Regions from separate parts of the Homo sapiens genome. Here region 2 is linked to region 1. Evidence: fine-mapped expression QTL. Tissue or cell type: aorta. Region 1 holds a variant in brackets; the other region holds the start of a gene. All regions are shown on one strand. Distances are between the middles of the regions.

Region 1 (8,101 bases):
ACAATACAGGAAAAAAAAAATTAGCAGGGCATGGTGGTGCGTGCATGTAGTCCCAGCTACCCGGTGGGGACTGAGGTAGGAGGATTACTTGAGCCCTGGGAGGTCAAGGCTGCAGTGAGCCAAGATCGTGCCACTGCACTCCAACCCCGGTGACAGAGTGAGACCCTATCTCAAAAAAAAAAAACAGACAAATAGACCTTGTACGTGAGGCCTGGCCATTTGTTAACCCGTGTGAAAGATGTTTCGGTGGCCATTTAATGAACATATGTTGAATAATGTGCTGTACTGTGTACCACAGATACAAAGGGGAAAAAGATACAGAAGGAAAAAAGAAAACTCAGTATCACATACTCAGCCCCTTCTGATAGAACAGGTGTGTCCAAGCAGCAACATCCTAAAATAGTTGTCCTCCACTCTGGGATGTAAAAGAAGTTCTTCTGGGATTTGGTTTTATTACAATGACTGAGAATTTGCTCTCCCTCAGTTATCATATCTACTGTGACAGGCCTTGCACACGTCCTGTGAGATCCTACCTGCCAAGAACCTGTCTGCCATTTCTCATTAGTATCTTTGTGGTTTGCAGTCACCTGTGTAGAATTTGCACATATACTCAAGTGTTATTTGTTTTCAATTACTTCCTCAATTATTGCTGGTGTGTGTGTGTGTGTGTGTGTGTGTGTGTGTGTGTGTGTGTGTGTGTGGTATTTCATAGCCAAAGCTATAAAATGTATTTCCAATAATATTAGTAGAATTTTTTCAGCCCCTAAAACCCACCATAAAAGTTAACTATAATAACAAGGCCCGTAGGCCTGTACACAAGGGCATGGTTTCTATCGAAGTGTATTACACAGGCCAGACCTCTGGATTCTCCACCTCCAGTGGCTGCTGTTTAAAGCAGGCATTAAAAGGAAGATCATTTTCATGTTTGTGATTTGAAGCATGTGTGTGCTCACGAAGGATACCTCCCTGGACAATGCCTGGAAGAGGACTTTGTGAAGTGGAGACTGTACATGATTCCACCAGCAAGCATGTGTCTTGACAAAGGTTGTTAAGGACAAGAAGTTGTGCCTTAGCTGTAACCAAAACCCAGCCTAAGCAATCAGGTGAGTTGAAGTAGATGTTGTCAAAGCTAAAAAGAAGCCAAGCGTGGTGGCTCACACCTGTAATCCCAGCACTTTGGGAGGCTGAGGCAGTGGGATTCTTGAAGCCAGGAGTTTGAGACCAGCCTGGGCAACATAGCAAGATCCCATCTGTTAAAAAAAAAAATTAGCTGGGTGTGGTGATGTGTGCCTATAGTCCCAGCTACTCAAGAGGTTGAGGTGGGAGGATCGCATGAGCCCAGGAGGCCACAGTGAGCCATGTTCGTGCCACTGCACTCCAGCCTGGGCAACAGAGCAAGACAGCATCTCTTTTTTTGTTGTAAGACAAACAATCCCATAGCATTTATTGCCATCTTGTAATAACATAAGGGTAATCAAAACAATATGAATAAATGTTCATATTGGACAAAGGACAGCTAAAAACAAACTGTATCCTTCTCAACAATTTCTCACTTCATTGATCATTTCTAGCTGGAGACACTTTGTAGCAGAGGAATACCTCCTTTTAGCATGATCCGACCCAGTTGTTTTCTTGACTTTGTTTTAGAATGAATCTCTTCCGCATCATCTAATAACAAGGTTCGTATACTCATTAAAACCAATGATACAGCCTTCTGTCCGCATATTCACTTGCTCATAGAGCCACACCTGAATCTGCGATCTATTTTGTAAGTATCTGAAGATGAGGTTGATGGGCGCATCTTCACCTTCTGCACTTTCTGGCCCTGGCCATGGTATGCCATGGTGGAATTTCACAAAGAGCACACCCGCACGCTGCCTCTGAGAGCAACTTCCAGAATCAAGACACCGTCTCTTAAAAGAAAAAAAAAAAAACTAAAAAGAATAAGATGTAGGCTTAGGGCTTCCTCCCCTGAGGAATTCTTTTGGATCCCTCTGGCCTCTGACAAGCCAAGCAGAATATGGAGAAAGGAGTCTGTAGAGGCTGCTGTCAAGTCCAGGGTAAAAACACGAGCATTTCCAAGCATTTCATCAAGGACTTGTTAAAGATCCAGGTTTGAAGTCTCCAAGGAAGACTTTTTTTAAAGATGTTGCCCAAAGGAAAAGAGATCAAACCAGCAGAATGAATTCCCCATCATATACATGGGGGATACCCAGGAACTCACAGGGTCTCTCCGGAACTCTGAAAGCAATTAGAGAACAAGCATATGGGTTGTGGTCCCTAGAGTTGGAGCCTGATGCCATCCTCCAATAAGTTCTCCAGCAGATTCCCTTTGGAAGGCTACTCATGGACCCGGGAAGAAATGACACCCAAGAGCGGGGAACTAGAGGCTAACACAGGGTACTTGCTACTGCAGTGGCTTCAGATACCCTACCCCTACCCCAAACTTGGGCCAGGCCAGTGGCTATGGAACTCCAGAAAGAAGGGCCTCAGAGAGAGAGAGGGAGAAGGAGAGAGTGTCATCTACATCATGACAGTTGCACCTTTTCCATGTGCAACTGGGGAAAGCTGCGGTCCCTCAGCAGCCCTTTGCCTTCACTTGGGCCAATGACCAAAGGTACCCAGGGTGGTAGTCCAGTCACTGGCAAAAGCATGGCAGCCTTTTGGCAAAAGACTTGGGGGCATAAATAGTGAAACACTCAGAGAATGGAATGATTGGCTGGCTAGAAAATGGATGGAGGGTGTTGTTGGGAATAGGCAGTTGGAGATGGGAAGGGTAGGCCAGGGCTTTAATGCCCACTGAGCAGGCATCGGGAACCGCTGGAGCTTTTGTTGGGGGTAGGGTGGAGGGGGGGAAGTAATGCAATCACAGGAAGGGTGGGCTGGCCTGGGGAGGGGCTGCCGGCAGGAGGGCAGCTCAGAGTCTTTACAGAGGTCCAGGGCAGTGAGCAGCAGAGATGAAGGGGAACAATTGGAGAGACAGTCCAAGTTAGAATGACAAGACTTGGTCCCCTGTCAGTTGTAGAGAGTGAGGGAAAGAGAAGAGGCCAGAATGATCCCCAAGGTTTGTACAATACTCAGGGTGACCGCATGTCCTGGTTTACATCATCCATCATAATTGTTAAAGGTGTTCCCTTTCACTTTCAAAGGAGCCTTGGTTGATAGGATGTAGGAAACAGGATCAGGGCTGGATTTTGATGAGTCTGTGTGGGATTGAGCTGCCTGTAGCACGGTGTCAAGGAAGCACTTGGAGATGAGGAGGAAGGCTGGAGCCAGCTGCAGAGATGAGCGTGATCACCGCGTGGGTGCCAACCTGCAGGGGGAGGAGGAGACTACCCAGAGAACACCAGCTTTCGAGGCATAGGCCAAGGTTCTGAGGAGCGGCTGGAGGAGTAAGTGGAAAACCAGCCGAAAGGGTGCCCCAGAAGCTGAGGGGCCTCTTAGGAAAAAGACCTGGAAGATGACATTGGGTTTGGTAGTTAGGAGGTCAGCAGTGGCCTTAGCGAAAACAGGGCCAGTGACGTGGAAGGCAGGTGGCAGTGGGCCGAATGATTGGAGGGAGTGGAGGCATTGACAGTGGGGGTTTGACGGTTTTGTAAAGAGCTTGTAAGGGAGAGACGGCCTCAGCACAGGGCCCATCCAACTGTGGGTCTCCAGCCAATTGCACTGATTTTTCCTGCCCATTCTTCCTTCTTTGAAGGGAAAAATGGAAATTGAAGAGGAAGAAATCAATGACCCATTTGAACCATGACTTGGAGTTTAATTCAGCGTGTATCTGAGTGACTACGTGAGTACTCCTGACCTCCAGGAATGGATAGAATGGAATATGGAAAATCAAGGTGGATCAAATGAGAATTTGGCCAGTGGACTTACAAAAAAGTATTCAAATGGGCCACACCTACCCAGTCTGGTGCTGTGCATGCATCACAAATCCTCGGACATGAGATGGAGTTGTCACCTGGTCAGTGATTGGGTTTCAGAGTCTGGATAGGAACTGGGGGCTCAGGAAGGAAGTGGCAAAGATGTGGAATTTTCAGGTCATCATCAGGCCTGAACAAGACCTGATCACCACCCAGTCTCGGTCCTCAAACAGCTGCTTGTGAAAGTTAAGTTCTGTAACCAACTTCATGCACAGGCTATGCCTAGAATTGG[T/C]GTTCTACTAGGTCAGTCAGGAAGTGACAGGGGATTTGAGAAATGTTTTTAGAGCCTTTGTGCTCTGAAATGTACCCTCCTCCCTAACCCAACTAGCCTAGCCTGGATGCTTGAAATTCCATAAAGACCAAGCCCTGGATTTGATTGGAGAGTTGGGGGAATGTGTTGCAGCCCCTCTCCCAACCCAGAAAGAAGGCATGTAATGTGCTAACGCCGTTAGGAGTGTTTATGGCATATGGGTTATGATATTGAATTTGTCCAATAAACCATCAGGAAACTTGTGTGGGCATTTCCTGTCTCACTTTGTGATGGCTAATTTATGAGGGCTGCTGTCAGGTTATAGATTCTCCATTTTTACCAGAAACTTCCACCTTGAGCCTTATAATGGATCCACCGGAATGAAGATATGTATTCTAGGCAAGGATTTAGGTAGGGGAGAACCATGAACCTGGCACACAGTAGCACTAAACAGTGTTTAATGGGTAAGTGGGTGGATGCTTGCTCTGGGCTGTGAAAGAAGAGTGTAAAAGAGACAGGACCATAGATCCAGGAAGGTCATCTTTGAAAGAGAAGCCCAAACAATGGGTAGAAACTACAGAAAGTTATGGAGGGGTAGGTGTGAGCATTTGGGGACCACTCTGATCGCACATTAATATTACCTGGGAGCTTAAAAAAAAAAAAAGTAGATGCTTAAGCCCCACCCTGGAAGAGTTAAATCATAATGGGGAACGCAGACAGGAATCAGTGTTTTTAAAGCTCCTCCCAGCAGCCCTGGTGCCAGTGAGATCTGAGAACTAGCAGACTGGGTTGTCTCCTCTGGTTGAATTGGCGCCCAGACCTTCCCCCAGAGGGGAATCCCTCTGGAAGGGAAAGAGTGGAGGAGAGTGTCCAGGGCGGGGCTGTAGAGTGGACCCTTCCTCAGCCAAGGAAGGACTCGTGCAGCTGGCAGTCACAGCACTTACTGGCCCCAGCGTATGTTGCCCAGGAACCATTGAAGGCTTCCAAACGGCTGAGGTCACATTTTTCCAGGCCCTAATGGGAACGGTTGGGAAGGTTGTCAGGGGCAAGACCCCATTCAAAATAAAACAGCACTCAGAAGTTCAGAAATGAGAGGCTGAAGATTTGAATATAGACTTTACTGGGTTTTTTTTTTTTGAGTGTTTTTATATATTTAATTTTTTTAATTAAAAAGTGATTCCCATTGCATATATTTGCATTTACCTTTTAAAATCAATGTATGTTTAGCCAAAAGAATAAAATAAAAACACCCATAATCTTGTCTCCCAGAGAGATTAAGTTCAACTCACCTCTTAGTGTATATTCTTCCAGATTTCTCAACACATACATAAAGATACCTGTTTTACAAAATTACAAGTAAAAGTAGGATTCAATACATGTTTTTTCTTTTTTTAAGCACTCCCCATTACACAGGTGGAAATACATGTTTCGTATCTTGCTTTTTCACTTAACAGTGTAAACACCTTTCTGTTTCTGTAAATAACCACCTACTACATAAATTCAGATATCATAATTGCAGCATAAGGCATTTAATATCTTTCAGCTATTATAAACAGCTCTTCAGTGAACATCCTTGCAGCTATATTTTGCTTGCATCCTTAATTATTTCCTTAGGATGCATTCCTAGAGACAGTAAGCCTTCAGAAGACTTGATACATACTTCCAAATTGCACAAGACAGGATTTACTAATTTACTTTCCCACCACCAGGGTATTAAAAAGTGCCTGTGGTAATTAAAGGGGGAAAAGGCCACTGCCAACATGAGAGACTAAAAGTAGTTAACTCATTACTGAGTTCATAACTTCTTTATCTCAAATTCTGCAAACAAATGGGAGTGGAACCCAGAGATTTTCCTTGACGGCTTGATGCCCAGCCCAGGAGGATCTTTGTTGTCTGGCCCACCAGGTCACCGGCTCCTGGGGTTTTCAGTGCAGCAGGTATCCTTGTCCAGGGCCTTTGTTTCCCGCTGGTCATTGGTCCAGCATGCTTCCGGTGGGGACTTGGGAACCACCAGGGGGCAGTGTGGAGCTGTTGAGCATGCTCTGCATGCCTTACGGCTTATCCATATTGAAACTTTCAATAATACAAGTATTCTTTTGTTGTGTTTTATGACTTCTCAGATTGGTATTTATAATATTGATTTGCTTACATTAGTATTTCATCCCCTTCCAATTATTTTTATGTTTATGTGTTGTAAAAAAAATAACCTGATCCATCATAGCTGTTCTGTAGCTGGCGGCCAGGACACCTGGGTTGTTCTGATCCCAGCTCTGCCAGTGTCCTCCGTGACCTTGGTGGGACAGCTCACCCCATGGGCCTGACTGCCCTTATCTGAGGAGTGCCAGGATGGGCTGCAGGAGTGGTATGTTTTCTTCTCTTCCAGCACTAGCATAATGAAAGGATTGAGAGTTGGCCTTGGCCAGGTGTGGTGGCTCATGCCTGTAATCCCACCACTTTGGGAGGCCGAGGCGGGCGGATCACTTGAGGTCAGGAGTTCAAGACCAGCCTGGCTAACGTGGTGAAACCCTGTCTCTACAAAAATACAAAAATTAGCTGGGTGTGCACCTGTATTCCAGCTACTTGGGAGGCTGAGGTGGAAGAATCACTTGAACCCGGGAGGCGGAGGTTGCAGTGAACCAAGATTGTGCCACTGCACTCCAGCCTGGGCAACAGAGCGAGGCTCTGTCTCAAAAAAAAAAAAAAAAAAAAAAAGAGTTGGCCTTTGGGGCTGGGCATGGTGGCTCACACCTGTAATCTCAGCACTTTGGGAGGCCGAGGCAGGTGGATCACTTGAGGTCAGGAGTTCAAGACCAACCTGGCCAACATGGTGAACCCCTGTCTTTACTAAAAATACAAAAATTAGCTGGTGTGGTGGCGCACACCTGTAATCCTAGTTACTCAGGAGGCTGAGGCAGGAAAATCACTTGAGCCCAGGAGGCGGAGGTTGCAGTGAGCCAAGATCGCACCATTGCACTCCAACCTGGGCGACAGAGGAAAGACTCTGTCTCAAAAAAAAAAAAAAAAAAGAGTTGGCTTTTGGGTTTGGGATAGACTGGGGCAAGTTAGTTAACCTCTTTGTACCTTAATCCCTCCATCTGTTAAATGAGGATAATAATAGCATCAACTTATAAGGCTGTGGGGGTTAAACGAAATAACACATGGAGTATCTGGCACAAGGTAACGCATCACTAAATGTTTTCTTTAAAGAAATCTGTTTATCCAAGATTTATGCAGACAGTTTCCTGTCCCTGGCTTTGGCACATACTTATTTGCTTATCTGAAATGATATTAATATCAAACAGAGTATGAATTTCAGAAGTGCTGTATTCCACAGTGGGGCTGAACAGAAGAATCCCAGCATCAAGGCCCCCAGCTACAAAAGATTAGAATGTTTTTGTTTGTTTTTTAATAATGTATTAACTGTAGGGGAAAATATAAAAATAGAAGCAGATATGATATTGGTAAATGTTTTTTATTTGATCACTTTAGGTAAATGGAGTCTTACTCACCTGATAGGGTCCCCAGTGGCAGCGGACTTTCCCATTCCCTCTATCCATCATTCTCCCAAAAGGTGATGGTTTCTCTGTTCTCACCCTAGGTCAGCTAAATTAGGGTCTGTGGCAACAACCCCAGGAGTGTGACCGCTAATTGCCTTTGCAGACAACATTTCCACTAGAGCTGCCTGGGAGGCAGCACCTCCAGAGAGAAGGACTTGCACCTCTAATTTGGTTAATCCTAGAACACCCTGCAATAGTCATCAAGCACCTCTCACAAATGATATGCTGTGCTTAAGGCCGTGGGGACCCAAAGGGCGAATAAGATTGGATGCCTTTTTTTTTTTTTTTTTTTGAGACGGAGTCTCGCTCACGTCACCCAGGCTGGAGTGCAGTGGCACGATTTCGGTTCACTGCAACCTCTGCCTCGTGAGTAG
Region 2 (8,101 bases), 130 kb before region 1:
TAGGTTTGTGTATACTCCATATGTTCACAGAGCAATGAAATTGCCTATTTCTCAGAATGTATCCCTATCATTAAGCAATACATGTCCTAAACTCCATCATTGTTTTGTGAAAGCAGCCATTGGCAATGTATAGGCTAAGGAGTATGGCTATGTTCCAATAAAACTTTATCAACACTGATATTTGAATTTCATATAATTTTCATGTGTCATAAATATTATCCTTATTTTTATTTTTATTTTTTGGGACAAAATTTCGCTCTTGTTGCCCAGGCTGGAGCGCAACGGCGCGATCTCGGCTCACTGCAACCTCCGCCTCCCGGGTTACAGGCATCTGCTACCACGCCTGGCTAATTTTTTTTTTTTTTTTTTTTTTGAAACGGAGTCTCGCTCTGTCGCCCAGGCTGGAGTGCAGTGGCACGATCTCGGCTCACTGCAAGCTCCGTCTCCCGGGTTCACGCCATTCTCCTGCCTCAGCCTCCTGAGTAGCTGGGATTACAGGCGCCCGCCACCACGACCGGCTAATTTTTTGTATTTTTAGTAGAGACGGGGTTTCACCGTGTTGACCAGGATGGTCTTGAATTTCTGACCTCAGGTGATCCACCCGCCTCGGCCTCCCAAAGTGCTGGGATTACAGCCGTGAGCCACTGCGCCTGGCCCTTATGATCTTTTTCAACCACTTAAAAATGTAAAAAAAGCGGCCGGGCGACGTGGCTCACACCTGTAAAACCAGCACTTGGGCGGATCACCTGAGGTCAGGAATTCGAGACCAGCCTGGTCAACATGGAGAAACCCCGTCTCTACTAAAAATACAAAATTAGCCGGGCGTGGTGGTGCATGCCTACATTCCCAGCTACTCAGGAGGCTGAAGCAGGAAAATTGCTTGAACTCGGGAGGTGGAGGTTGCAGTGAGCCGAGATGGCACCATTGCACTCCAGTCTGGGCAACAAGAGTGAAACTCCGTCTCAAAAAAAAAAAAAAAAAAGTAAAAAAAAAAAGTCTTAGCTGAGACCATTCAAAAACAGGCAGCAAGCTGTAGTATGCTGCTCTAGATGGTTGTTTTTGGTTTGGCCTCTATGCCTGGTGCTACAAATCACCAAATTCTCTGAGGGGATGAAACAGCAGTGAATACAAACTCGCTTGAATGAATTTCCCTTCTGGTATTTTGACTCCTCACGTCCTGGCTGACTTGGTTGACAGTGATGCCTTCAACTCAGCTGGGTTTTGTTGTTTTATTTTGGTATTTTATCCAGTTTATAGTTAGTTGTTCTTGATGAAGGAGTCAATCTGACATCAATACCCCATTAGAATGGGAAGTGGAAGTCTACATGTTAATTTTAATTTGCTACTTTTGCTTACCATTATGAGCCTCCTTCTATATTGACAAATATATCTCCACAATGTCATAACATTCCATTAGATGAATGCACCATGATTTAACTTAATAATTCCCTATAGGGGACATTGAAATTGTTTCTAGATTTTTTCACTGTGATGAACACACTTCTACAGGTTTATTTTTGTACCTAGTTGTTTCCTTCAGATAAAATCCTAGAAGTACGTGGATAAGTCAAAGGGTTCACACTTTTAAAGGTATTTCACAGGTATTACCAAACTTCTCTTTAGAACTGTTACACAATGGCCCAGCATCTATGTGCTTCTTAGTATAGGGGCCAATGCTGGGTGTTACCATTCTTTTCTTCCTTTGCCAATCTGACAGATGAAAACTGGTTATCTCAATGCTGTTTCCGTTTGCATTTCTGGTTTATAGGTGTGGCAGGCTGATAATGGCTTACTCCCAAAGCTGCATCTATGACCTAATCCCTGGAAACTGTGAATGTTTAAGGAAAAGAGGTCTTTGCAGATATGAAGTTAAGGATTTTGACATGGACAGGTTATCCAGGTGGTCCTTAAATGCTATCACAAGTATCACTTTTTTTTTTTTTTTTTTTTTTTTGAGACAGAGTCTCACTCTGTCGCCAAGGCCGGAGTGCAGTGGTGCCATCTCAGCTCACTGCAACCTCCTCCCTCCAAATTCAAGCGATTCTCCTGCCTCAGCCTCCCAAGTAGCGGGGATTACAGGCGCCTGCCACCACACCTGGCCAATTTTTTGTATTTTTGGTAGAGACAGGGTTTCACCATGTTGGCCAGGCTGGTCTGGAACTCCTGACCTCGTGATCCACCTGCCTTGGTTTCCCAAAGAGCTGGGATTACAGGCGTGAGCCACTGTGCCCGGCCACAAGTATGGTTTCTTACAAGAAGGGGGCAGAGGAAAATTTGTCACAGACAAAAAAAGGAGAAGGCAATGTGATTACAGACGCAAGGGTGGGAGTGATGTGGTCACAAGCCCCCAGAAGCTGCAAGAGACAAGGGTAGATTCTTTTCGGAGCCTCCAGAGGGAGCATGGCCCCGTCAACACCTCCATTTCTACTCAGTGAAACTGACAGTGGACTTCTGTCTTCCACAACTATGAGAGGATAAACTTCTGTTGTTTTAAGCCACCAAGTTTTCGTGATTTGTGACAGTAGCAGCAGAAAACTAGTACAATAGGTTTTTCATATATTTATGGACCATAAACATGAAAAATCGTCTGACTTTTAAATCTTATAAAAATAAAATAACACACAATAATACAAAGAGTATGATTCTATGTATGTACATCAGAATATCTGTAAATACGTTTACATATGTTCATAACTGCCTAGGAAAGTGTCTGGAAGGATATATACCAAACTAGTGACAGTGGTTAACCAGAGGCAGTTAACTGAAAGTGGTTAATTAGAAGGGTCCTGTGTCCTGAGGGGGAAAGAGGAACTTTTACTTGTTACTCGATACTGCTCAAGATACATCTGTTATTTGAAAACGCTTTATGAGACTGTACTCATGTATTGTGTAAAAAATTAGAAAAGGCATATCTGCTTGTTATAAAGTTCATAGAAACCAGAAAACTATCTCCTTTCACTTATCCTTTCCCAGAAATAGTCATTGATAATAATTTGCATCTTCTCAGATTTTTTTCTACGCAGAAATAAATGTGTATAATTTTTTTAAAAACAAAAATAAAATAGTGAGTGTCATATATAGTGTTTCATTTAAAGATGTTCCTCCAAAATCAATCTTGGTCCATGTGCCTGTGTGTGTGTGTGTGTGTGTGTGTGTGTGTGTGTGTGTGTGTGTGTGTATGGGTGGGGGGAGGGGCGGGGACACTGCATAGAACTGGCCAGCTGCATGGACTGTCACTGTAAAGAAAGATGAAGAATGCATGTCACCAAGCTCTCTGATGCTTTGAACCTAGCATATGTGGCTTTGCCCATATGTGCGGGCACCTCTGTAGAAACTCTTCTGCCAGTTGGGCTGAAAATAGTTTTACATAGTTCCATACTGCCTTCCAAGCTGTTTTCAAAGTTTATGCTCTAATAGTTCCCCACGGAGGATAACACAAGATATTCATTTTCCTCAAACTTTCCCGCACAGGTTGGAGAGAAACGACATCTTAATGTCATTGTAACAGGCATTTCTTTATTAAAAAAATTTTTTTTTTGGAGACAAGGTCTTGCTATGTTGCCCAGGCTGGTCTCAAACTCCTGGGCTCCAGCGATCCTCCTGCCTAGGCCTCGGGAGTAGATGGAACTCCAGGCGCGGGCCGTGGCGCTCGCACCACAGGCATTACTTAGGTATGAGGCTGGTTGAGCATTTTTCTCGTGTTCACTGGCTACTCACGCAGCTTTGTGAATGGCTTCGGAGATCACTGGACAGGCAATTTTCCCTCTCAATGAACCAAATCCAAATTCTTTTGGAACCCAAGACCGCGATTTTTCGATTTAGGACCTAGTCCCAAACAATGAAGAAAAGGTGATCTTCAAGATTTCAGCAGGGAAATCTGTATATCTGTACAAGGTTGAAAACCTGGGCCGGGGGTCGCGTTGGAACCCCACAGGAAAAAGGCGCGGAAAGCCGCCGGGCATTTTCCGGGGTTCCATAGATGTCCCCAGTGTCCTAGTCCGTGCATCAGCTCGCGCACTCGGAGGGACTCTAGGCAGGGGGAGGGCCCCGCGGCCAGTATGTGCGTCCGAGGCTTTCCCGCAGGGGGCAGTGCCGCCCGCCCGCGCGCCGATACGGTGGGAGGGGGTGGGAACCTGCGCGGAGTTCTGGAGGTTCTTTGGGAGAAAGTTAGGGGATGCGGAGGGGTGGGCGCAAGACTTCCAGGACTCCAGGGAGGCCGTGGGGAGGGCCGCCGAGGGTGCAGTGTGAGGCGCAGGAGGGGGTTGGGGGCGGTGCACGTTGCAGGGAGACGCAGCCCCTGGAAGATGCGAGTGTGAACGTGTGAGTGTGAGTGCGTGTGTATGTGTGTGTGTGCGCGCGCACCGCAGCTCTCCGGGTTCCGCGAGGCGCGCGGGTGTCAGCTTGCAGCCGGGGCTCCTCCCTCCGGCCCCCCTGCCCAGCCCGGCGGTCCCTCCTCCCTCCCTCCCCGCTCGCCCCTCCCCGGCGGGCCAGGGGCTGGGACGCCCCGGCGGAGCAGGCGGCGGCGGTGGCGAGTTGGGGAGCCCTAGGCTCGGCGCTGCCGGAGGGGCCCGAGCCGAGCCGCCTGCGCCCCGGCCGGGCAGCGCCGGGCCCGCTTCCCGCGGGGCCACGCCCTGTCAAACTTTGTTGCGGCGGCTAGCGCAGCGGGCCCGCAAGCGGGCGGGAGGGGCGCCGGGCCGGGCCGGGCAGGGCGCGGGCGGCTAGGGGCTCCGAGAGCGGCGGCCCCGGCCCGCGGCCCCACCATGCCCCAGCTCGGCGGCGGGGGCGGCGGCGGCGGCGGCGGCAGCGGGGGAGGCGGCGGCTCCAGCGCCGGGGCGGCCGGCGGAGGGGACGACCTCGGGGCGAACGACGAGCTGATCCCCTTCCAGGACGAGGGGGGCGAGGAGCAGGAGCCGAGCAGCGATAGCGCCTCGGCGCAGCGGGACCTAGACGAGGTCAAGTCGTCCCTGGTCAACGAGTCGGAGAACCAGAGCAGCAGCTCGGACTCGGAGGTAAGGAAGCACCGCGGCCACCCCCGGGGGATCCCGGCCCTGCGTCCGCTCACCCGCTCTTGCCTTTGTGTCTCCTCCGCAGGCGGAGAGGCGCCCGCAGCCCGTCCGGGACACTTTCCAGAAGCCGCGGGACTATTTCGCCGAAGGTATGTGCCCGCTGGGACAGCCCCCCACTCTCGATTCCCGCTGCGCTCCGCTGCTCAGCCCGGGCGGCCCACCGTCCCCCTTGCTTGGGTGGACGCACCCTTGCCCTCCGCCTTTATTGGCGGCAGCCCCCGTGGGGCGCGCGTGGGGGGCGCTGGGGTCCCCAGCTCCCGCCTCGAGCCCCCTGCCGCGGCGCTGTCAGTCCCGGGGGCCTGGGCCTCACCTCGCCTTGGTCTTGTTCGCAGTGAGAAGGCCTCAGGACAGCGCGTTCTTTAAAGGACCCCCGTACCCTGGGTACCCCTTCCTGATGATCCCGGACCTGAGCAGCCCGTACCTCTCCAACGGACCCCTGTCTCCCGGAGGAGCGCGCACCGTGAGTGCCCGTCGGGCGCGCCGGGGAGGGTGGGAGGCCGCGGCCCGCAGGATGCGCCCCCGGGCTTGGCCATGGAGTGGGGGATGGGGCCTTCTGCGCCGATCCCAAGCAGAACTTGTTTGCGGAGTTGAACTACTCTCTGGCGGCCGAGCGCGAGGCTGCGCTGGCCAGTGCCTGGATGAAAGTAAAGTTACTTTAACTTTTCCCCTCTTGCGGGTTGAGGTTTTGGAGTCCACCTCTGGGATCTTCCTTGGCCTCCAGAATTCTTCGCCTGCACCGAAGGAAACTTGGATTTGTGCCCGCTTTGGGGGGGTCTCGCTTTCCTTCTTGGAAATCGGTCAGCTTTCTCTGGCAGTGGGGCAAGGGGCCTAGGGAGCTGGGTTGGCGACGTTGTCCTCCGACTCCGGGTTCACTGGGCGGCTGCAGGCTGGTTCCTAAGAAACCCAGTTTTCGTGGCGGGTTATTCACAGCCCCCGTTCCCACCCCCAGCCCTCGCACCGGGGCCTCAGCTTTTCTGCGGAGCTAGCTCCGAATTTTAAACTCGCGTAGATGATTTCGAGGCGACCCAAGGCATTCTTCAAGTTGAGGAACTTGGCTTTTTCCCCCTTTTGTCGCCTGCTTTTCTCATTTAAAGCGAGCGCTGCGACACTTTAAACCTGTTAATGGGCGCGTATTGTGTGCTGCCCGCTGGCATTTAGAGCGGTGATTAAGCAAATTGACCGGGCCCCAGACGACGTGCAAATGAGGGCGGATTCCTTCGCCCCCTCTCTCTGGCTCTAAACTCCCGCCCCCCGCGTTGCGAGGGGCGCAGCTGGGGGCTGGCGAGGCCTTTGTGTCCCCCAAGCCGCCACTCCACCCCTAGGCTCCCTGCCCAGGTGCTGGGTCCGATGACAGATGTTGGGTGAACGCCTACCTACTGTGTGCCAGGTTCCCGCGTGCTGCTGCTTGGGCGCGATGTGAATCGTAGTAGTTCTTTGCTTCCCGCCCAGATTCCCATTGCCTGCCACTTCGCTGTCGACGGTGGGTAAGGGGGCAGGGAGTGTTAGCCTCTTAGGAGCAGGGTCCCAGCAACACACTTTATGCTAAGACTGCCCTAAAATAACGACGATAATTAAAGGGTGCTAGAGAAAGGCTAGGTGCTGAATGGCCATTCCTGCTGTCATTGTACAGCGGTCGGTGGAGAGCCAAGTCCTCCACATTTGGTTCAGCGGGGGCGCTACCATCACCAGATGGGTTGGAGGGGGATTGACGGGGGGCGGTGGAAGAGACTCTGACTGAGAGAGAGGGGAATGGGGAGTGGGACTACACAGACCTCACAGTTTTGCCCCGAGAGGGAGGGAGGTCTTGCAGCTTTGGCCCTGCTGGCCTGGAGCACCCCAGGAAGTCCTGAATGTAAGTGTCAGTTTTGCAGTGAAAACTGGATGTGGGTCTATGGCTGTTGCTTTTTCTCATTAAAAGAAAAGAGGTGCGTGCCAATCAAAGGGGGGGGGGGATCAACGAGCTGCTGCGGTCTTATTTAGGTTTTCAGTGATTCCCACCAGTGCCCACACATGTAGCTTAGTTCTGCAAGTTTTGTTGGGATTCGTGTAACTTTGCGTATGGGGGAGAGTTAATGCCGCTAAAGTCTCAGGTTTCCATTTACTATTAGGATATCTAGAGAGAGGGGTCTGGGAGGCACTAGCATCTGTGCATCAGCCCTCAGCCAAGTCCTGATGCAGTTAAAGTCACCAGAAATGACTATTTCACCATCAAATATGACTATGGCTCCCTCAAGGCTATTTCTCCATGCACCCATTTCTCTTTAGGGCATTTTGATTCATCCAGGCTCTGCTGTCTGCTCTCTCTGACAGTCCAAGTGAGACAGATTTTTGTTAGTGTCCCCTCCTTCCTTCCTTCTATCACATTATGTGTTCTTTCGCCTAAGAACTTCCAAAGGCTGATTCTTGCTGATCCTGGAGATTCCTGATTACTAAATCCAGGCCCGTGTGGGATTTTGGAGCCCCTCCTTGAGGCAGCCAACCTTTCGTCTCTGCATGCCTCTCTGACTGTCCTTGTTCATCTCTGCAGTTGTTCCCTGCCCTGGCCCAGGCACCAGCCTCCTTTCAAGCCTCCTAGGACATGTACTTTCTTGGGGACTTAGTATGTCCCATCCCACCCCCATACCTACATCTTGTCTCCCTGGTGACTTGCCCTTACAGAAGTTAGTTCAGTTCCCAGTGTTTCTGTGTCTCTGTGTGCCTTTCGCTGTGTTAGTTCACGGATATACTGGGGAAGTGTCCTGCCCTTAGGTCAGCACAGTTAAACCTAATTTGACCCTGTTCGTTTGCTGCCAGTAAGTAAAGCAAGTGAGGAAACACTTAAGCACTTGGTTGTCTGGACTATAGGGTGGAGATGATGGTTTTCTGCTGAACGATTCTATTAATATAATTAAGATAATTGTCACTGTAGGCAAATGGTAGGTACAGACAAAGTGGCCCTCTGTTGGTTTCCCAGCCTGGTAAAATGAATGTGGATAGATACGAGTGGGGAGGGAGGAGGGAGGAAAGTGCCTGGGATATATGATCCGATCTCTCTG

Alleles and levels. Positions count from the first base shown, and alleles are read on the strand shown. Sizes are in standard deviations (SD) of each study's normalised expression.
In carriers of allele C in region 1, the expression in aorta of the gene that starts at base 4,468 in region 2 tends to be higher than with T alone (small effect, 0.34 SD a copy in GTEx).

What was found. PIP is the estimated chance that this variant, and not a neighbour inherited with it, causes the effect.
Region 2: it holds the start of TCF7L1, and the variant in region 1 is fine-mapped to the expression of TCF7L1 in aorta (GTEx, PIP 0.91).

The regions. Positions count from the first base shown.
Region 1 is chr2:85,260,472-85,268,572 of GRCh38, forward strand. All of the region lies in intron 3 of TCF7L1 (transcription factor 7 like 1), which reads left to right. It also overlaps the pseudogene SNRPEP11. Among named protein-coding and RNA genes, the nearest start is that of TGOLN2, 63 kb to the right of the region's middle. RefSeq lists enhancers at 1-83, 2,067-2,994. The variant T/C (reference allele first, on the strand shown) is at 4,153.
Region 2 is chr2:85,128,925-85,137,025 of GRCh38, forward strand. It overlaps TCF7L1 (transcription factor 7 like 1), which reads left to right and starts at 4,468. Exons shown (of 12, transcript NM_031283.3): 1 at 4,468-5,009; 2 at 5,092-5,155; 3 at 5,399-5,526. The coding sequence starts at 4,761. RefSeq lists a silencer at 4,068-4,137 and enhancers at 4,503-5,077, 5,653-6,227, 6,228-6,801.